4 separate regions of the Homo sapiens genome follow, and all the other regions are linked to region 2. Evidence: fine-mapped expression QTL. A gene starts in region 2. Each other region holds a variant in brackets. All regions are shown on one strand. Distances are from middle to middle. Region 1 overlaps ARPC1B (actin related protein 2/3 complex subunit 1B). Region 2 holds the start of PDAP1 (PDGFA associated protein 1). Region 3 overlaps ARPC1A (actin related protein 2/3 complex subunit 1A). Region 4 overlaps ARPC1A (actin related protein 2/3 complex subunit 1A).

What was found.
Region 1: its variant is fine-mapped to the expression of PDAP1 in whole blood (TOPMed, PIP 0.91).
Region 3: its variant is fine-mapped to the expression of PDAP1 in whole blood (INTERVAL, PIP above 0.99).
Region 4: its variant is fine-mapped to the expression of PDAP1 in whole blood (INTERVAL, PIP 0.96).

What each region holds. Positions count from the first base shown.
Region 1 is chr7:99,385,686-99,390,685 of GRCh38, forward strand. ARPC1B (actin related protein 2/3 complex subunit 1B) reads left to right here. Exons shown (of 10, transcript NM_005720.4): 2 at 17-93; 3 at 1,000-1,104; 4 at 2,354-2,576; 5 at 4,220-4,327. The coding sequence starts at 30. Among named protein-coding and RNA genes, the nearest start is that of ARPC1B, 13 kb to the left of the region's middle. The variant A/G (reference allele first, on the strand shown) is at 2,088.
Region 2 is chr7:99,406,231-99,411,597 of GRCh38, forward strand. PDAP1 (PDGFA associated protein 1) reads right to left here and starts at 2,367. Exons shown (of 6, transcript NM_014891.7): 1 at 2,306-2,367. The coding sequence starts at 2,318. It overlaps BUD31 (BUD31 spliceosome associated protein), which reads left to right and starts at 2,739. Exons shown (of 6, transcript NM_003910.4): 1 at 2,739-3,015; 2 at 3,804-3,939; 3 at 4,834-4,956. The coding sequence starts at 4,863. It overlaps MIR12119 (microRNA 12119), which reads left to right and starts at 2,942; the gene lies at 2,942-3,034. RefSeq lists a silencer at 2,136-2,195 and an enhancer at 2,406-2,795.
Region 3 is chr7:99,337,187-99,342,553 of GRCh38, forward strand. ARPC1A (actin related protein 2/3 complex subunit 1A) reads left to right here. Exons shown (of 10, transcript NM_006409.4): 3 at 995-1,099. Among named protein-coding and RNA genes, the nearest start is that of ARPC1A, 14 kb to the left of the region's middle. The variant TTTTG/T (reference allele first, on the strand shown) is at 2,962.
Region 4 is chr7:99,355,550-99,360,916 of GRCh38, forward strand. ARPC1A (actin related protein 2/3 complex subunit 1A) reads left to right here. Exons shown (of 10, transcript NM_006409.4): 7 at 2,791-2,866; 8 at 3,996-4,189. Among named protein-coding and RNA genes, the nearest start is that of ARPC1B, 16 kb to the right of the region's middle. RefSeq lists enhancers at 2,433-2,933, 4,127-4,627. The variant CTT/C (reference allele first, on the strand shown) is at 2,987.

The DNA of each region.
Region 1 (5,000 bases), 21 kb before region 2:
CCTCTCTCGGGCACAGGAGCCAAGCCGCCATGGCCTACCACAGCTTCCTGGTGGAGCCCATCAGCTGCCACGCCTGGAACAAGGACCGCACCCGTGAGTGCTTGCTGGGGGCCGGTGGGTGGCTGCTTCCACCTCCTGGGATGGGGACCAGCCAGAGCACACATGGGGACTCTGGAGCAGCCAGGCCCCCGGACCATGGGCTCCATGTGGCTGTCCCCTGGCCTCACCCCTGGGTCTTCCAGCTGACCAGGGGCCTCCTGGGTTAAAGTTTAAGGAGGGAATGGGCCAGTTGCGGTAGCTCATGCCTGTAATCCCGGCACTTTGGGAGGCTGAGGTGGGTGGATCACTTGAGGTCAGGAGTTCCAGACCAGCTTGGGCAACATGGTGAAACCCTGTCTCTACTAAAAATACAAAAATTACCTGGGCGTGGTGGTGGGTGTCTGTAATCCCAGCTACTCGGGGGGCTGAGGCACGAGAATTGCTTGAACCCAGGAGGCGGAGGTTGCAGTGAGTCGAGATTGCACCACTGCACTCCAGCCTGGGCAACAAAGCGAGACTCTGTCTCAAAAAAAAAAAAAGAGAGAAAGAAAGAAAGAAAAAGTGACCAAGAAAAAGCCTTTCGGAGGAGATGACATTTTGACATTTACCCAGAGACCCAGAGGGGGAGAGGAAGGGAACTGTGCCCCAGCTGGGGAGGGGCTGGCAGGTGCAGGGGCCCTGAGGTGTCAGCAGGAGCAGCGAAGGGTTCCTGGTTGGCCAGAGCAATAGGGTGGGGAGAGGTCCCAGGGTTCATTGCTGCGAGTAAAGGACAGCCAGTTCCAGGAGAAGACAGGGTGGCCTAGCAGGGCCTGAAGGACTTCAGGGGGCCCCTGCAAGGCAGAAGAGGAGAGACTGAGTCATGAAAGGTGAGGTGTTGTTGCCTAGGTGCACTGTGTAGTGTGTCCTGGCAGAGGGCAGTCATGGAGAGGGCCCCTCAATCTCCCTCCATCTCCCCTTCAGAGATTGCCATCTGCCCCAACAACCATGAGGTGCATATCTATGAAAAGAGCGGTGCCAAATGGACCAAGGTGCACGAGCTCAAGGAGCACAACGGGCAGGTGACAGGTATGTCAGGGTGGCTGGGACCACCGTCCTGAAAGGAGGTGGTGGGTTGGGGGGGTGGTGCAAGGCAGGGCATGGCCACTCATTGTGGAGCATCTGCCCACTCACCGTGAAACCCGGATTCAAACTGGCTTCAATTTTAAGGGGACTGTGTTGGCTCATGTTACCAAAAACTCACAGGGTTGAGGGCTTCAGGAGAGGCTTGATCCAGCAGCTCCACATGACCAAGAACCCATCTTTTCTGCCTCTTGGCTTTGCCCTCCAGCATGTTTGCTGATAGCATGGAGGGCTCTGACACTCCCTCATAAGCTCTAGGAGTGCCCCCTGGTGTCACTCTAAATAAGCACTGGATCTCAGTAAAAAGTGCTTGCTGGGCCGGGTGCAGTGGCTCATGCCTGTAATCCCAGCACTTCAGGAGGCCAAGGCGAGTGGATCGCTTGAGGTCAGGAGTTCGAGACCATCCTGGCCAACATGACTAAATGTTGAAAAATACAGAAATTAGCCGGGTGTGGTGGCACGCACCTGTAGTCCCAGATACTCTGGAGGCTGAGGCAGAAGAATCGCTTGAACCCAGGAGGCGGAGGTTGAAGTGAGCTGAGATTGCACCACTGCACTCCAGCCTGGATGGCAGAGCGAGACTGTGTCGCAATAAAAACAAAGAAAGAAAGAGGCCGGGTGCGGTGGCTTGCGCCTGTACTCCCAGCACTTTGGGAGGCGGAGGCGGGCGGATCACCTGAGGTCAGGAGTTCAAGACCAGCCTGGTCAACATGGTGAAACCTCATCTCTACTAAAATACAAAAATTAGCCAGGCATGATGGCGGGTGCCTGTAATCCCAGCTACTTGGGAGGCTGATATGTGAGAATTGCTTGAACCCGGAAGATGGTGGTTCCAGTGAGCTGAGATCGTGCCAGTGCACTCCAGCTTGGGCGGCTGAGCGAGACTCTGTCTCAAAAAAAAAAAAAAAAAAAAAAGATTGGTGGTACAC[A/G]CCTGTAGTCCCGGCTACTCAGGAGGCTGAGGCACGAGGATTGCTTGAACCTGGGAGGCAGAGGCTGCAGTGAGCTGAGATCATGCCACTGCACTCCAGCCTGGGTGACAGAGCGAGACTCTGTTTCAAAAAAAAAAAAAAGTGCCTGCTGGGCAGATACAGCTTCCACCTGGATGGTGGCCTTTCAGCCTCTCCCATGTGGCCACCATACAGCCACCTCTGCCTGAGTGTCATCAGCCTCCTGTGTTCCCTCCATCCCCCCACAGGCATCGACTGGGCCCCCGAGAGTAACCGTATTGTGACCTGCGGCACAGACCGCAACGCCTACGTGTGGACGCTGAAGGGCCGCACATGGAAGCCCACGCTGGTCATCCTGCGGATCAACCGGGCTGCCCGCTGCGTGCGCTGGGCCCCCAACGAGAACAAGTTTGCTGTGGGCAGCGGCTCTCGTGTGATCTCCATCTGTTATTTCGAGCAGGAGAATGACTGGTGGGTACCTAGGCAGGGCCAGAGTGGGCTGTTAGGGACCGGGGGCAGGACTAGAGTGTCCCCGGGAAGCACCAAATGGGATGTCAGGACCCCTGTTCCCATCACCCTGGGGGAGTCCATCCTCTCCTCTCTGGGCCTCATTCATGAGGCAAGGGCCTCTCTGCAGCGTCCGGATGTTCTCACTGCCAGTGACACCCACCACACCAGAAACACATCTGGGGGCACCTCACTAAGCCCTGCACACACATTAGTCCTGACTTCCCTGCAGCTCCGTGGACTGGGCATCGGTCACTGTCCCCACTTTACAGATTAGCAAAGGCCCTGTAGCAGTCACTTTCTCAAGGCACCACTCACGAGCTCGCAGCCACATCTTGTTCCTTTTTTTTTTTTCAGATGGAGTCTCACTCTGTCACCCAGGCTGGAGTGCAGTGGCACGATCTTGGCTCACGGCAGCCTCTGCCTGCCGGGTTCGAGCAGTTCTCTGCCTCAGCCTCCCAAGTAGCTGGGATTACAGGCACCTGCTACCATGCCCGGATAATTTTTATATTTTTAGTAGAGATGGGGTTTCACCATCTTGGCCAGGTTGGTCTAGAACTTCTGACCTCATGATCCACCCGCCTCGGCCTCCCAAAGTGTTGGGATTACAGGCGTGAGCCACCGTGCCCAGCCAATTTTTTTTTTTTTTTTTTTTTTGAGACACAGTCTTGCTCTGTCGTCCAGGCTGGAGTGCAGTGGCACAATCTCAGCTCACCGCAACCTCTGCCTCCCAGGTTCAAGCAATTCTCCTGCCTCAGCCTACTGAGTAGCTGGGACTACAGGCACGCACCACCACGCCAGGCTAATTTTGTATTTTTTAGTAGAGATGGGGTTTCTCCATGTTGGTCAGGCTGGTCTTGAACTCCTGACCTCAGGTGGTCCTCCTGCCTCCGCCTCCCAAAGTGCTGGGATTACAGGCGTGAACCACTGCGCCCGGCCATATATATATTTTTGAGACAAGGTCTTGCTCTGTCGCTCAGGCTGGAGTGCAGTGTTGTGATCATAGCTCACTGCAGCCTCAGCCTCCTGAGCTCAAGTAATCCTACCACTTCAGCCTCCTGAGTAGCTCGGACTACAGGCCCAAATCATTTATTTATTTATTTTGTAGAGATAGGGTCTTGTCACGTTGTCCAGGCTGGTCTTGAACTCCTGGCCTCAAGCAATCTTCCCACCTCAGCCTCCCAAAGTGCTGAGACTACAGGTGTGAGCCATGATTGCCAGTCCACGTCTTAGTTTTTAATCTCCCCTGCATGGCTGAGGGCAGAGGCCAGCCAGGAGCATCTGAGAGACCCAAATTTGCATCCCACCATGGCCAGTTAGTAGTTGTGTGACCTCTGGTGATGGCATCACTTTGCTGAGCCTGCTCTGAGGGTGACTGTGTGGCCTAAAGGATAGAGGGCACAGAGTTCCCACTCCAGAAGCGACACAGCACATCCCTGCCGCCCCAGGGCCCTGACGGCCTTGTGGGCTGGCAATGCCCAGTCGCCTCTCTCCTGGGTCTTTGGTGGGCTGCAGGGAGCAGTGGGAGCCTGGAGTCCCTGGTGCTGAGGTCCATGAGTCCCACCTGCCTGTCCCTCTCTCCCTGTCTGCCTGACCACCGTTCCCAGGTGGGTTTGCAAGCACATCAAGAAGCCCATCCGCTCCACCGTCCTCAGCCTGGACTGGCACCCCAACAATGTGCTGCTGGCTGCCGGCTCCTGTGACTTCAAGTGTCGGTGAGACAGGGCGCCATGGGGGAGGGCGGGGCTGACGTCAACTGACTGCTGACATCATAGCGGGGAGCCGCACCTGAAAGCTCTACACCCCAGCTTCTAGACACATTCCAGACCTGCTACCAGTGGATGACCTGGGCGTCGGTTGAAGGTTCTAGTTCCTGGGGAACCCTTCATGTCTCAGCTGGATGGGCCTCTGCCCACCTCTTTTATTTTTTTTGAGCTAGGGGCTTGCTCTGTTGCCCGGGCTGGAATGCAGTAGTGCAATCATAGCTCACTGCAGCCTCCAAATCCTGGACTCAAGCGATCCTCTTGCTTCTCAGCCTCCCAAGCAAGACTACCACGCCCAGCTAGACAGGATTTTTTTTTTTTTTTTGGAGACGGACTCTCGCTCTTTCGCCCAGGCTGGAGTGCAGTGGCGTGATATTGACTCACTGCAACCTCCGCCTGCTGAGTTCAAGCGATCAAGCGATTCTCCTGCCTTAGCCTCCTGAGTAGCTGGAACTACAGGCGCATGCCACCATGCCCGGCTAATTTTTGTATTTTTAAATGTAGAGACGGGTTTTCACCATGTTGGCCAGACTGGTCTCGAACCCCTGACTTCAAGTGATGCATCTGCCTCAGCCTCCCAAAGTGCTGGGATTACAAGCTTCAGCCACCATGCCCAGGCACCTGT
Region 2 (5,367 bases):
GAGCGAGACTCCGTCTCAAAAAAATAAAAAAATCGCTGTTCGTTACTTTTCCCTCTAATCTAGTATTTGGTGGAAAAACAACAACAAAAGCACCACTGAGCACATAAGCAATTTACTGCAGATGTTGGAAACACAATAAAATACCTTGTGTTCACCTTAGTAGTATGGCAAAAAGAGAATACTTAAGGGAAAAAAAAGAAACCCAAACCTACAGGCAAAAACTTTGTGCTTAGACTAAGAAATGACTGGCAAAGTACAGATGAAAACAAACCTGACTACACAGTCTAAAAGTTAAAAATGTGACTAGCAGTTAAAGTGTCAGTTTTATAGTCTGACCCTCTTCAGCCAGAACACCAGGCTGACCCTTGCTTAAGCCATCAGCCAGTTTTAAAGCAAGGTGGCATCCCCCTCTGCTGGTCCCCAAGTATGCAAGGGTGGCTGTGGCCTCAACTTCCACACAGGAAGCTGAGGCCCACCTGATTTCCATAGTCTGTCTCTGTGAGCAGAGACTCTGTAATCAGCCAGAGTTGCTCTGCACTCCAGAGGCGGTAGCAGAGATACTGGCCTCCTCTGATTCCTTACAGCAGCTGCAAAGCCATAATTGGGCTGCTAAAGATCACACCACCCATTTTTAATGACTACCTAGGTTCCCAGGGGTGTCTAAGTCTATGCTTATTAAAGTCCTATTGTGAGAGAGCAAGTGTGCCAAGAAAAAAACCAACACCCTTTCTTGCTCTCTTAATACACCAGGCAACAGTAACAACTCAAAATTGATTACTATAGGCTCTCCTCTCATGCACTTGGCTATGGGACCCTGACCTTAGCTTGGTCCACAGTAATTTTATAGTAGACTCTTCAAGACTTTAAAAAACGATTTGCACTTAACATAATGGAAACAAGCGTTGGTCCTTTGCTCTTAGGGAGTTTGATACTTTTAACACCTTCACGGTTTTTTGTGGTTTTCAGATTAACCCAAGAAAATGTAAACCTTGTCTACCCCAAAAAGCTTTTCACAAGCCCAAAGACCATTTAGCTATGAATTCATATTTAAGGTTTTATCGTTGTAACCTCCAACCTTTACCCAAAGTATCCATTAAGTAAAACTTCGGAGGGAGGATGGCTCATTCAGCAACCTCCTTTTACAGATGAAGGGACTGGGGAACAATAGCAGAGAGACTTTTCCAGCCACAGAATAAATCAGTAGAGAGCTAGGTTTAAACACATTTAGCTCTGTAATGCCCAATTATCTCTGGAGTCAGGAAGCGATTTAGGTTTGAAAACGCTACAGGCAGATGTTTCTGTGGGTTGAGTGCATTAACCAATATAACACATGAGCTACCAACACAAATATATTTGTTCTGTGCCAGGAGGTGGCCAGGCACTTTATGAGCGCTATAATTTTACCACCCCGGCCCCAATTCAACAAGCTAAGGATTAGCCCAGTGTTTCAGATGAGGAAGAGGTTAACTTGTTCAGGGCCACAGAATTAGACGTGACATAGCTGGGATTCAAACTGGGGACTATCGATTCTAAAGGGGGAAACAGGATAGAGAACGGGCTAGAAGATAGAGGACGGGCTACAATGGACTGGGCAGTCATGAACCTACTTACAAGATCAAGAGCTGGCAAAGCCTTAAAAATAAGAATAGTTACTGCTTCACTGGGCACTTTTAACGACTGCCTGGCACTGTACTGCGCACTCCACGTGGATTACCTAGTTGAAGCCTCCCAACAGTACTAAGAGGTAGGTACAATCGTTATTCCCATTGGCAAATGAGAAAACGGAGACACAGGAGGTGGAGCGACTGGCTCAAAGGAACACACCGAGCCGCTACCGAACGGGGGAGTCGAAACCAGGTCTGGAAGGCTCATGGGCATCTCCTTAAGTCCTCCTAGGCAGGCCTGGCTGAACCGAAGCCAGAAAAAGCCCACGTTTTACGCGAGAGGCAGGCGGGCCCGGCACAAGCGCGGGACGCGGTGACTCAGTTCCTAGCCAGCCAAAGAGTGGGATAAATTCCAGAACCCCTAGACCCGGAGAAGCGCATCCTAGATCCGGCTTTCTAGGCCGGCGAGGACCCAGAGCTTCCGAAACTCCTCAGACCACTGACGGAGTGACTCTGGGACACCACAGTCCTCAGTTTCCCCATCGGGACAATTGGGCGTCGAGGCCCAGGCCTGGCTCTCAGCCGGTGCGGACAGCCTCCCTCTGCGCTGCTCTCAGAGACGCGCACGGGCTGAGGGGACAGCGGAAGCCGGACCTGGGCCGCCCCTCCAGGCCTGCGGGCCACCGGCGCCCGCCCCTCACCTCCTTTAGGCATTGCGGCTCCGGCGGCTGCGGCGGCGGCGGCGGCGCCTCGAACTGACACCGGAACCGGAAATAGCTTGGGCTCGACTTCTTCCTCCTGGGCCAGCCGCCGCCGCCGCTTCAGTGGCCGCAGTGGCCGCAAGGACCCGGACCTCAGGGAGGCCTCCGCACGAAGTCGGACCGTCCTGCGCGCCGCCTAAGTCCAGGCTTGCCCGTCTGCTGCCAGGCAACAACGCCCCTAGTCTCTCCGTTCGGGAAGACGCGTGGCCCTGCCTGCCACCCACCGGAAGTGAGGGCAAATGGCAACAGCGGCTCTGGAATTCTATACAGGCATTGCTGAGGACACCTAAGATGACGCAATCTCCGCGCGGGTAGGGCGGGGCTCCGCAAGGACCTCATGCCTTAGAGATCGCCTGAAGAGCGGAAGCCTTCTGTCGAGAAGCAGCTACCCAAGCTCCAGGAGCTTCCGGTATGTGTTTTCCCTCTGTTCTCGATTACCTTGGCAACGGCTGAGGCGGGAGACCGGTGGTCTGCACCGTCCTGGAGGGAGATATGAGTGGCTGGACTCTCAGCCAGCCACTGGGATGTGTTCGGGCTTTGGACCTTGAGGCCGGAGAGAGCTCCCGAGAGGAGGCGGCGCCACGTTCGTTCTTCTGAGGGGACGGTAGATTTGGGGGTTTTCCTCTAGGATTCTCGCGCCGTTTCCTCTGGTAGGAACGTCTTCTGTGTTCTGATTGTTTTTCTAAGCTGGGTTCAGATGCTGTCCTTTTTATGAGTTTTCCCTACAATCCTGCACTATCTTCCTTCGCTCCTCCTCGCCTCCTTCCCCTAGCGCCCCAATCTCTCTTACACCTCCCGGCACATCTTTCTTCTCGATCTGATTACCTCCTACGTCCTCTTTCTCCTCGATCTGGTTACCGCCTACCATTTTCACCTCCGAGAGGCCTCTTCTGACTTCCAGGCTGGATCAGGGCCCTCGAATTTCCCTGGGTCGTAGAAAAGCGATCATTCTCTTGTCACAGACTATGCGCCTTGGGGCCGAGACCAGAATTCACCTATTTTTAGCTTCAGCGTAGGGGAGACTAGTGCGAAGACCACTGATTTGGGAGTCAGGAGCCCTCCAGAGTCAGGTTTTGCAAATTCTCAGCTGTGTGACCCTGATTCTACCTTATAGAGTTTGATTCCTCCTCTATATGGTTGTTTTAGAGAGTTCATGAGAGGAGGCTCTGTGGGCGGGGGGGGGGTGGGTCTTTGTAAAGTGTCAGTACAGAAGGGAGTGACTGAATGAATTTGAGAGAGATGAATCTGTTATGCTGAAAGGTAAATACTTAACCTGGGTTCTCTCTGGCAGCAAGGAAATGCTGTGTGGTTTGAAAAACGCTTTGCTATTTAGATTGGGATCGGCCTCTTGTATGGGAACTACCTGACTTTATGTAATATGTTGTTTGGTGTGAAAGAGACCTTGGCAATCAGCCAATCCACTGCCCTCATTTTACAGAAGAAACAGGACCAGAGAGGGAAGGTGACCTGAAAGTCACAGAATAATTTTTTAGAGCTGAACAAGAATCCAAGCCTGCAACTGCAGAGACGAGAGATCTTTCTGCTGTCTATACTCTTGGAAAGCACATCCTAAGGTACTTTGATTTTACAGTCATCTTTCCCTTTTTATTTTATGTTTTGTTTTGTTTTGTTTGTTATTGAGACATGGTCTCACTCCGTCACTTAGGCTGGAGTGCAGTAGTGTGAACATGGCTAACTGAAGACTTTCAACCTCCTGGGCTCAAGTGATCCTCTTGCCTCAGCCTTCCGTGTAGCTCAGACCACAGGCACCCACCACCATGCTCAGTTAATTTTTTTGATTTTTTTTTTTTTTTGGTAGAGATAGGGTTTCACCTCATTGCTCAGACTGGTCTCAAATTCCTGGGCTCAAGTGATCCTCCCATCTCAGCCTCCCAAGGTGCTGGCCAAGACCAGAATTACAGGCATGAGCCACCGTGCCTGACCTTCCATCTTTGCCTTTTTAAATACTCACCCCCATGGCTCCCCGAGTCACAGCCCTCCTTATACTCTATTGTAATTGCTTTTTCTCTTGTCTGTCTCTTTGCTAAAATGTCACCTTCTAAGGGGCAAAGGCTTAACTTTTGTTCTGTGTTCCCAACATCCAGTATAGGGTTAAGCTTTTAGTTGAAGTTAGCTAATGACAACAGCAAATGTCTCTTAGGCACACATTATACACCAGGCATGATAGATACAATTCTAATGAAGTCTTTGCAATGACCACATAAGGTAGCTTCCATTATCCCCATTTTACAGATGAGGAAACAGAGGCTTAGGAAGGTTAAGTACCTTTCTGAAGATCACAGCGGGTAAGTAGCAGAGCCAGGATTTGAACACAGTCTGGGTGCTGAGCCCTGTCCCATAGCTGTGACCCTATGCTGACTCAAGGAAGTCAGCCTGTACCGAAATAATGGCTGGCAAAGGCCTTTGGGGATTTGAGACTCAGAAACCAATTCATTTTTTTCCCCCAGATCTTTGCAGATTATCCTGTGGAAGGAAAATGCCTAAAGTCAAAAGAAGCCGGAAAGCACCCCCAGATGGCTGGGAGTTGATTGAGCCAACACTGGATGAATTAGATCAAAAGATGAGAGAAGGTGAGTAGGGGAGTTCCTGTCTGGGTGGGCTGGGTCCAAGGGTCACAGGCTTAGATGCCCCCAGGGGACAGGCATAAATGCAAATATAAAAAGAGAGTGGTCTACTAACACTGACATGTTGTGTTTGCTTATGAACTTGGGGAAATACTGTAAGTGCCCGAAAATAAGATAACATTAATGAAAAGGTCCTCAGAAAAGGTGTTTTTTTTTGTTTTTGTTTTTGCCAACTCGAATATAAAAGGTTATGAAATATAGATCAAATAGTCTACCTATAGTTATTTACTATTTTGGTTAGATATATATTTAAAATCATACAAAATATATTTACTTGGAAGTGCTATTCCTTTTCAGTATCATCGATTAGTCTTTGCCGCATCTGTTTTCTGTCACTTCCTTGTAAATGGCGTGTGA
Region 3 (5,367 bases), 69 kb before region 2:
CAAGGCAGGCAGATTACCTGAGGTCGGGAGTTTGAAACCAGCCTGACCAACATGGAGAAACCCTGTCTCTACTAAAAATACAAAATTAGCTGGGCGTGGTGGCGCATGCCTGTAATCCCAGCTACTTCGGAGGCTAAGGCAGGAGAATCGCTTGAACCTGGGAGGCGGAGGTTGCAGTAAGCCAAGATCGCGCCATTGCACTCCAGCCTGGGCAACGAGAGCAAAACACTATCTCAAAAAAGAAAAAAATGAAAATCTGAAATCCAAAATGTTCCAGAGAGCATTGCGTTTGAGCATGACCTTTTGAGTGTCATGTTGATACTCAAAAAGTTTTGGATTTGGGAGCATGTCAGATTTCAGCTTTTCAGATTAGGGATGCTCAACCTGTATGAGTTTTTAAAAAGTCCGTTTTGTGTATTATATTTTGGATTAGTTCAGGAAATTACTCTTGAAAACAAAGTATTGTGATTTATATTGGCTTTATTGTAAAGGAGAATTTCAGTATAGTTTATCAGCAGAATCAATTTTTTTAATATAAACTAGTGGTTCCAGCCTGGGTCCATGATAGCAGTAATGGAAGTCCATAACCTATTTTCAGTGTTTCAAAAAGACAAACAGAAATTTAGATTTAGCTCTAATAATATTGCACAGGTGAATGAAACTGTCAAACATTTTTACCCTGATCTAAAGTTATTTTAGCTAAGTACACTAACATTGTTTATTTTTCGCTGGTTAGAATCATTAATTGACAGTTGTACGTGTCTCTGGGAAAATGAATTTTAATCTTAGTTTTCCTGTAAAGCATTATAAAATACAGGGTCCAAGTAAAGGTTAAAAAAAAAATGGAATTATTCAGAGGTGAATTTGGGAACTACTTTTTCAAAAGTTTTTCTTTTCCTTACTATAGTCTGCTTTTAAAACAACTGTGACATGTCCCCTTTTTGGTGACAATTGCAAGTTCAGGTGTTAACTGTTGTTTGACTTGTGTCTCCAGAGATTGCCCTCAGTCCCAATAATCACGAAGTGCACATCTATAAGAAGAACGGGAGCCAGTGGGTGAAAGCTCATGAACTCAAGGAGCACAACGGACACATCACAGGTAAAGGAAGATAGCCGTGAGCTTAGTGTGATATTTCCAAATCAGGCACTCTTCCTTTTAGATAAAGAGCCTAATAAACCCAGGTGGCCATAATTTTTTTTTTTTTTTTTTTTTTTTTGAGAAGGAGTATCACTCTTTCGCCCAGGCTGGACTGCAATGGCGCAATCTCGGCTCACTGCAACCTCCACCTCCCGGGTTCAAGTAATTTTCCTGCCTCAGCTTCCTGAGTAGCTGGGATTACAGGCACGCGCCACTATGCCTGGCTAATTTTTTTTATTTTTAGTAGAGATAGGTTTCACCATGTTGGTCAAGCTGGTCTCGAACCCCTGACCTCGTGATCCTCCTGCCTCGGCCTCCCAATGTGCTGGGATTACAGGAGTGAGCTACCGCACCTGGCCCGTAATATTTAAAGTCATGCAGCACTTACTGAATTTCCTTAAAATTTTAAAGAAAATACTATAATGATCTTAGTTGTTAAGTGCTTCTTGTGGCCCCAGCTGGTACCCAGCACTCTACCGTTGCTATGGAAAGCACTGAACCTACCCTGAGGACTAAAGAGCTAAAATTAGGAGATGAGACGTGAAATTGAAAGCTAGATAACATGAAAATGTAGACAACACGAAAACGTGCGCCAAACTATTTCCAAGTGTCTTCCAAAAGTTTCCTTTGTGTTTTTAGGGTAAGGAAGACTTTCCAGAATATTGAGAAGAACAAAGTAATATAATAAACACCCATATCAGATAATCGCCACCAGAATTACCAACTTTTTCCCTGTGCCAGGAAGTAATTTCTTTTCCTGTATCAGGAAACTTAAGGAAAAAGGATGTAATAATAAGGAATATTATTCTTGATGATGGTAAAGTCACCTCTCACCAGCAGTCCTATTCCTCTCCCCTGGAAGGCAGACTATAATTTGCTATGACACCATTCCAGTCCATTTTTAATACATTTACATACATACATATTCATAAACAAGCTTAGGCCAAGCACAGTGGCTTACACCTGTAATCCCAGCACTTTGGGAGGCTGAGGCGGGAGGATCGCTTGAACCCAGGAATCCAAGACTAGCCTGGGCAACATAATGAGACCCCCCGTTAGCACGGTGTGGTGGCATGCACCTGTGGTCCCAGCTACTTGTGAGGCTGAAGTGGGAGGACCACTTGAGACAAGATCAAGGCTGCAGTGAGCTGTGATCACACCACTGCACTCCAGCCTGGGTGACACAGCAAGACCCTCATCTCAAAAAAAAGAAAAAAGAGAAAACAATCTTTAGGACTATTGACTAGTATTTTTTTGAAGCTACATAAATGGCATGATACTATGCATCTCCGGCAGCCTGCTTTTGCATTCATGATTGTTTCTGAGATCCATCTATGTTGCTGTCTAGATCAAGTTTATTCCTTTTAACCACTCTTTAGCATTTTATACCTCATTTATTTACTCCTTCCTCCACTGAAGAACATTTAGGTTGTTTCAATTTTTCCATATTACATGAAAGTGCTGAATAGGCATCCCTTGATTTCTGTACGTATGTGTGAATGTTTGTAGATGGTAGATGTGTTAATACCACAGGGTATGCATATCTGCAGTGCAGTGTTGCCAGGCCTCATCAGATTGCCATCATTCCCACCTGTCCTGTATGAGAGTGCTCATTTTCCCACACCCCGCCACATACTTGAGATGGGAAGACTGAAGAATGCATGAAAGGTTCATCCATTGCTTCTGTAAGTTGTATTTTCCTGATTCATGGAAAAGTTGAGATACTTTCAGACGTGTATTAGCCATGAGAGTTTTTCTTCCTTGTGACTGTCCTGTTCATAAATCCTGATCATTTTTTCATTGAGTTTTTGTCTTTTTTCTGT[TTTTG/T]TTTGTTTGTTTGTTTGTTTGTTTGTTTTGAGATGGAGTGTCATTCTGTCGTCTAGGCTGAAATGGAGTGGTACAGTCTTGGCTGACTGCAGCCTCTGCCTTCCAGGTTCAAGCAATTCTCCCGCCTCAGCCTCCCGAGTTGCTGGGATTACAGGTGCCTGCCACAATGCCCAGCTAATTTTTGTATTTTTAGTAGATGTGGGATTTCACCACATTGGACAGGCTGGTCTCAAGCTCCTGACATCAAGTGATCTGCCTGCCTTGGCCTCCCAAAGTGTTGAGATTACAGGTGTGACCCTTTTTTTTCTTTTAGACAGGGTCTTGGCTCTGTTGCCCAGTCACCCAGGCTAGAAGGATCATGGCTCACTACAGCCTCAACCTCTTGGGCTCAAGTGATCCTCCCATCTCAGCCTCCCCAGGAGCTGGTACTAAAGGTGTGCGCCAGCACACCCGGCTAATTTTTTTGTAAAGATAGATTTCACCATGTCGCCCAGGCTGATTTTTTATTCTTTTAGTTGGACTCTGCAATTTTACCTCTAATCACCTAAAATACTGATAAGCTTAGAGATATCCTTACCCAAATGAGAGAACTTAGCATGTTTTGCTATTCTACATCCTTTACAGAAGTTGTCCTGCATTCTTCAGCAATAACTCATGGCCACCCTTGCTTTGACCAGTGATTTATAAATAATGCTCTTGAGCACCAGTAGCTGAGTATATTTCCAAAGCAGCACCAAAGACAGCGTTTCTATTTTTGTTGCTGTTCCTTTCCCACAATCTTATTTCTATTAGGTTTGGCCTATTTTCTTAAGTTCCTTTGCCAGTGGCCTCATAGCCTAAGAATAAGAATACTCATATTTTAAATTGGAATTTTAGGCCGGGTGCGGTGGCTCACACCTGTAATCCCAACACTTTAGGAGGCTGAGGCGGGTGGATCACCTGAGGTCGGGAGTTTGAGACCAACCTGGCCAACATGGTGAAACCCTGTCTCTACTAAAAATACAAAAATTAGCCGGGTGTGGTGGCAAGCACCTGTAATCCCAGCTACTCAGGAGGCTGAGACATGAGAATCGCTTGAACCCAGGAGGCAGAGGTTGCGGTGAGCTGAGATGGCGCCACTGCACTCCAGCCTGGGGTATACAGCAAGACTCTGTCTCCAAAAAATAAAAAATTAGGCTGGGTGCAGTGGCTCAAGCCTGTAATCCCAGCCCTTTGGGAGGCTGAGGCGGGCTGATCACCTGAGGTCGGGAGTTCGAGACCAGCGTGACCAACATGGAGAAACCCCATTTCTACTAAAAATACACAAAATTAGCTGGGCGTGGTGGCACATGCCTGTAATCCCAGCTACTCAGGAGGCTGAGGCAGGAGAATTGCTTGAACCTGGGAGGCGGAGGTTACGGTGAGCCGAGATTGTGCCATTGCACGCCAGCCTGGACAATAAGAGCAAAACTCTGTCTCAAAAAAAAAAAAAAAAAAAATTAATTGGAATTTTAGAATTTAAAAGGAAATACTTTTAAATGAGAAAAGGCAAAGATGAAAGACCAAAGAAATCGCCAAAAATGTGAAATATTTAGTTATGTGTTTTTTTCCCTCTACTTCTCTTTTGGGGTCCTTTGAACTTGGGCCTGTTTTCTGTCTAGCTGCTCACATGGCATTTTTTAGATCTGAAATAACTTGTTGGAAAAATCTAAATATAACTCTGGGGCAGGAGATCAAGGATCAGACATATTTTCTCAGAAAGATAGTAATTTTAGGGGAAAAAAATATTTTCTGAAGCATTCTAGAAGAAAAAACTAGTCCATACTACAAAGAAAAGAAGTGTGGCAAACATCAGGGATATCAGAGTTCTGAGGTTTTATTCTTTTGTATTAAATATTTTTAAGAAACATGTTTTGTTACCATGGAAAATTTTAAACAGATTTTTAAAAAAGTGGAATAGTATAATGAGCCTTTTATACCCATCACCTGCATTCCACGATTATCGAGTAACAGCCAATCTTGTTCTTCTCAATTCACTTTCTCCTTTCCTGTACTAATTTGAAGCACATCCCAGACATTATATTGTTTCATATTTCAGTTTGCATCTCTAAAAGATAATGATTTTTCTTTTTAATAATAATAAATATTGATCAGGCTTACACCTGTAATCCCAGTGCTTTGGGAGGCTGAGGCAGGCAGATCACTTGAGCCCTGGAGTTCAAGACCAGCCTGGGCAACATGGTGAAACCCCATCTCTACAAAAAATTAGCCAGGCATGGTGGCTTGCACCTGTAGTCTCAGCTACTCAGGAGGCTGAGGTAGGAGGATTTCATGAGCCTGGGAGGTTGAGGCTGCAGTGAGCTATGATCACGCCACTGCACTCCAGTCTAGGTGATAAAGTGAGACCCTGTCTCAAAAAAAAA
Region 4 (5,367 bases), 51 kb before region 2:
GCCTGGCCAACATGGTGAAACCCTGTCTCTACAAAAATACAAAAATTAGCCCAGCATGGTGGCGGGTGCCTATAGTCCCAGCTACTCGGGAGGCTGAGGAAGGAGAATCACTTGAACCCAGGAGGTGAAGGTTGCAGTGAACCGAGATCATGCCATTGCACTCCAGCCTGGGCAACAGAGCAAGACTCCATCTCAAAAAAAAAAAGGCTAGTTTAGTCTGTTACTCTGAATTCCTTACAAAATGTAAGTGCCGTTCACCGGCCTTAAATTAAATAGGAGATATATTCTTACTGGGGGAAGTCAGCGAACGATGACTTCATTAATTTGAGCCTTCCATTCAGTAAGGCTTAAAAAGCATTGATGCCACTTCTCTGCTGTGGCTGGAAGGACTCGAATTACGGTGGCTTCTTTGTGAGTGGCGTGTCTGTTCAGCCATAAAGTACTTGGCCAGACATCAGAGTTCATTTTGTTCAGTATATGTTGGAGGAAGAGAGAAGATTGGAATCCTTCTTCTTTTATAAATCTTTGTTCTTCCCTGGTGTTCCTTTTCCATTGATAGCTAAAGGGAACTCACCATTAAAGGTTTTGTGATGGACATGGCCACTTGGGTATCAAAAATCAATCACACTGGGTGACCTTTACTCCCTGTCAGGTCAGTAAGAGTCACCCAGTGTAAACAGCATGATATTTCAGACATGATATGTTTTTCCTAACAGGATTAAATGTGCATTTTTTAGCTAGTTTTACATATTTTTTTAAAGATTATCCCCTCAGGCCGGGTGCAGTGGCTCACGCCTGTAATCCCAGCACTTTGGGAGGCCGAGGCGGGTGGATCACCTCAGGTAAGGAGTTCGAGACCAGCATGGCCAACATGGAGAAACCCCGCCTCTACTAAAAGTATAAAAATTAGCCAGGTGTGGTGGCATGCACCTGTAATCCCAGCTACTCAGGAGGCTGAGGCAGGAGAATTGCTTGAACCCAGCAGGCAGAGGTTGCAATGAGCCAAGATCGCACCACTGCACTCCAGCCTGGGCAACAAGAGGAAGACTCTGTCTCAAAAAAAAAAAAAAGACTGGGCACAGTGGCTCACACCTGTAATCCCAGCACTTTGGGAGGCCGAGGCGGGCGGATCACAAGGTCAGGAGATCGAGACCATCCTGGCTAACACGGTGAAACCCTGTCTCTACAAAAAATACAAAAATTAGCCAGGCGTGGTGGCGGGCGCTTGTAGTCCCAGCTACTCGGGAGGCTGAGGCAGGAGAATGGCGTGAACCTGGGAGGCAAAGCTTGCAGTGAGCCGAGATTGCGCCACTGCACTCTAGGCTGGGCGACAGAGCGAGACTCCATCTCAAAAAAAAGAAAGAAAAAAAGAAAGATTGTCCCTTCCATTATAAAATGTAGTCTTTCAGAAGATTTCCCTACATAAACAGGCACTTATATATCTTTTCATTTTTAACAGAAATAAGATTATTTTATACATTTTTATATACATTTGGTAATTTGCCTTTTAATACTTGATAATACTTTTGTATTTTGATGCCAGTGTTACTTGATTTTTATATGGTTTATTGTGACACAGTAAGTTCTTAGCATACACTTATTACAAGTCCCTGTCTACCCTCGTACTGACTTCTTTCCCTTTTCCAGTCCTGCAAGTCAGATTACATGCTCCACCTTTCCACTCCTCCAACATAAATATCTCATGTAGTAAAAGTCAGGTATACCGCACTAAGGGCTTAAGATGACACATTAGTTCTTCAATTCAATGCCAACTTTATGAAGGGTGTCCTGAGACATATACAGTTAGCTTTTTTTTATTTTTTAATTTAGAGAGACACTCTCTGTCGCCCAGGCTGGAACTCCTGAGCTCAAGTTCTCCTCCCACCTCAGCCTCTCAAGCAGCTGGAGCCACAGACGTGCACCACCACTCTAGGCTAATTTTTTTTTTTTTTTAATTTTTCGTAGAGACTGGGTCTCACTATGTTGTCCAGGCTGATCTCAAACTCCTGCCTCCAGCAATCCTTCCACCTCAGCCCCTCAAAGTGCTGAGATTACAGGTGTGAGCCACCATGCCCAGCCACAGTCAGCTTTTGAATGCATCGTTTCTTGCATGAAGTGAGGTGCTCCTAACTCATCAGCCAGTGTGTCTGCCTGCCATATCTGTGTAATCTCTTTGCCACATTCAAGAGCAAATAACTACATGCACACACATGTCCCTGCAGGCACACATACACACACATGGCCCATTCGAGTGTGAGCTCCTGGCTAAGACCGTTTGGTTCATCTTGGTAGCTCTAGCTCCTAACACAGTGCCTGGCCGTCAGCACAGATCTGTGTGGTCACAGCCCTCTCGGAGCTCCGGTGAGCACAGGCAAGGAGAAGGTCCTAGCACAGGTGTCTGCTGCCAAGTCATAGTAACAGGAAGAGCTCTAGGAGCTAAGAGCAGGGAGAAGCCACTTTAGGCGGAAGTGGCCCGGGAAAGTGGACCGTGGGATCATGGGGGTGATCCCTTTAGAGCTGTGCTGGGGGTGGAAGGGCGTGATGCAAAGACTGGGCTTTGGGAACCAGTTTGTCGTCAGTGGGCAGGGCCTCAGAAGGAGGCAGAGCCGGAACCCAGGGCTGCCCCTGTCTTGAGAGGCCTGCAAGTTGAGGTCAGGGGCTCCTTTTCAACATAAGTGCCCATTGATACTGCAGAAGCCCCTGTGAGAATGGGTCCTTTGTGATCATCTGTGTCTGTAAAGAAGCTAATAGTCTGTTGCATCTTGGGATAACACATGTTCTTGTGTTCAGGGTCTCGACTCTGAAGACAGAGTTCCTGCCGCTCCTAAGTGTGTCATTTGTCTCAGAGAACAGCGTCGTGGCTGCTGTGAGTATTTTTCTTCATTCTCCCTCGGGGTGCACTGTATGTGATGCTCAGACAGGGAACAATGTGTGCTCTGTCACCCTAGCACAAAGCAGAACAGTTTTTTAGAAGAAACAGAGCTCA[CTT/C]TTTTTTTTTTTTTTTTTTTTGAGATGGAGTTTTGCTCTTGTTGCCCAGGCTGGAGTGCAATGGGTGATCTTGACTCACCGCAACCTCTGCCTCCCGGGTTCAAGCGATTCTCCCGCCTCAGCCTCTCGAGGAACTGGGAATATAGGCATGCGCCACCATACCTGGCTAATTTTGTATTTTTAGAAGAGACGGGGTTTCTCCATGTTGGTCAGGCCGGTCTCGAACTCCCATCCTCAGGTGATCCACCCACCTTGGCCTCCCAAAGTGCGGGCATGAGCCACCGTGCCCGGCCTCAGAGGTCACTTTTTTTTTGGAGACTGTCTTGCTCTGTCGCCCAGGCTGGAGGGCAGTGGCGCAATTTTGGCTCACTGCAAGCTCCGCCTCCCGGGTTCACGCCATTCTCCTGCCTCAGCGTCCTGAGTAGCTGGGACTACAGGCGCCCGCCACCTCGCCGGGCTAATTTTTTTTATTTTTAGTAGAGATGGGGTTTCACCATGTTAGCCAGGATGGTCTCAATCTCCTGACCTCGTGATCCGCCCACCTTGGCCTCCTAAAGTGCTGGGATTACAGGTGTGAGCCACCGTGCCCGGCCGCTCACTTTTAAGAGTAAGAGGGGGTGGGGCACGATGGCTCACGCCTGTAGTCCCAGCACTTTGGGAGGCCAAGGCGGGTGGTTCACTTGAGGTCAGGAGTTCAAGACCAGCCTGGCCAACATGGTGAAACCCCGTCTCTACTAAAAACACAAAAATTAGCCAGGCATGGTGGCAGACGCCTGTAATCCCAGCTACTTGGGAGGCTGAGGCAGGAGAATTACTTGAACCCGGGAAGCAGAGGTTGTGGTGACCTGAGATTGTGCCACTGCACTCTAGCCAGGGCAACAGAGCAAGACTCGGTCTCAAAAAAAAAAAAAAAAAAGAGTAAGAGAGGCCTGTCGTGGTGAACACTCTGCCAAGGAGGTGGGCGGTGGGCAGTGCATCCTCCAGGGACTGACTGAGTCTTGTTTCAGGGCCATGACTGCTGCCCAATGCTCTTTAACTACGATGACCGCGGCTGCCTGACCTTCGTCTCCAAGTTAGATATTCCAAAACAGAGCATCCAACGCAACATGTCTGCCATGGAACGCTTCCGCAACATGGACAAGAGAGCCACAACTGAGGACCGCAACACGGCCTTGGAGACGCTGCACCAGAATAGCATCACGTAGGTGCCGTCTGTAGAGAGGTGGTCAGGTGACAAGGTGCCTTCCTGCCCCTCGCTGTTTCCTTACTGGGTTCCTACAAAAGCTCTATGCCCCTCAGGCCCAGACATTCTTTCAGGGACAAGTGCAGCAAGAAGTCTGTATCTTCCCGACCGCCAGGCTCTCATTTCCAGCTCGTGGTAGGGAGGGAGTCGCCACCACCTGGTCATTCTGTCCTTCAAGGTGCAGATTACAAGGCAGCAGCCAGCAGGAGCAGTGCAGACCTTGTTGCAATCTGAGGTGGTGGGGCCTCAGGGCAGCTGCTTCCTAGGGTACCCTTTCTCAGCTACTCGAGAACAAAAGGAGACATTCCTGAATGCTGCGTTCCCACAGTAGTGCACACATAACAGAAAGCGAAGTTACAGCCTGTTGGAAAAGGTAACTGTAGCTGTCGTTTCAAGTAATGGATACAAATAAGAAGATTATTTAATTAAAGGAACAGAATTTCTTATCATCATGATGACAAAGCTGAGGAGTGTCTCGACTGGGTTTTCATCAGGTATATGTAATTATGTAAGACAACAGAATTGTGTTTTGTCCAGAAAGTTTAATTTTTTTTTTTTTTTTTGAGACAGAGTCTCACTCTGTTGCCCAGGCTGGAGTGCAATGCCACAATCTCGGCTCACTGCAACCTCTGCCTCCCGGGTTCAAGCAATTCTCCTGCCTCAGCTTCCCAAGAAGCTGGGATTACAGGCGTGTGCCACCACACCTGGCTAATTTTTTGTATTTTTAGTAGAGACGGAGTTTCACCCTGTTGGCCATCCTGGTTTCAAACTCCTGACCTCAGGTGATCCAACCACCTCAGCCTCCCAAATTGCTGGAATTACAGGCGTAAGCTACCGTGCCTGGCCTGAAAGTTTGATTTTTAAGGTCTAGAGGAGAGGCTGGGCATGATGGCTTACACCTTTAATCCCAGCACTTTGGGAGGCTGAGGCAGGCAGATCACTTGAGGTCAGGAGTTCGAGACCAGCCTTGCCAACATGGCAAAACCCCATCTCTACTAAAAAATACAAAAATTAGCTTGGCATGGTGGTACACACCTGTAATCCCAGCTACTCGGCAGGCTGAGGCAGGAGAATTGCTTGAACCGGGCAGGTGGAGGTTGCAGTGAGCCAAGATTGAGCTACTGCACTCCCGCCTG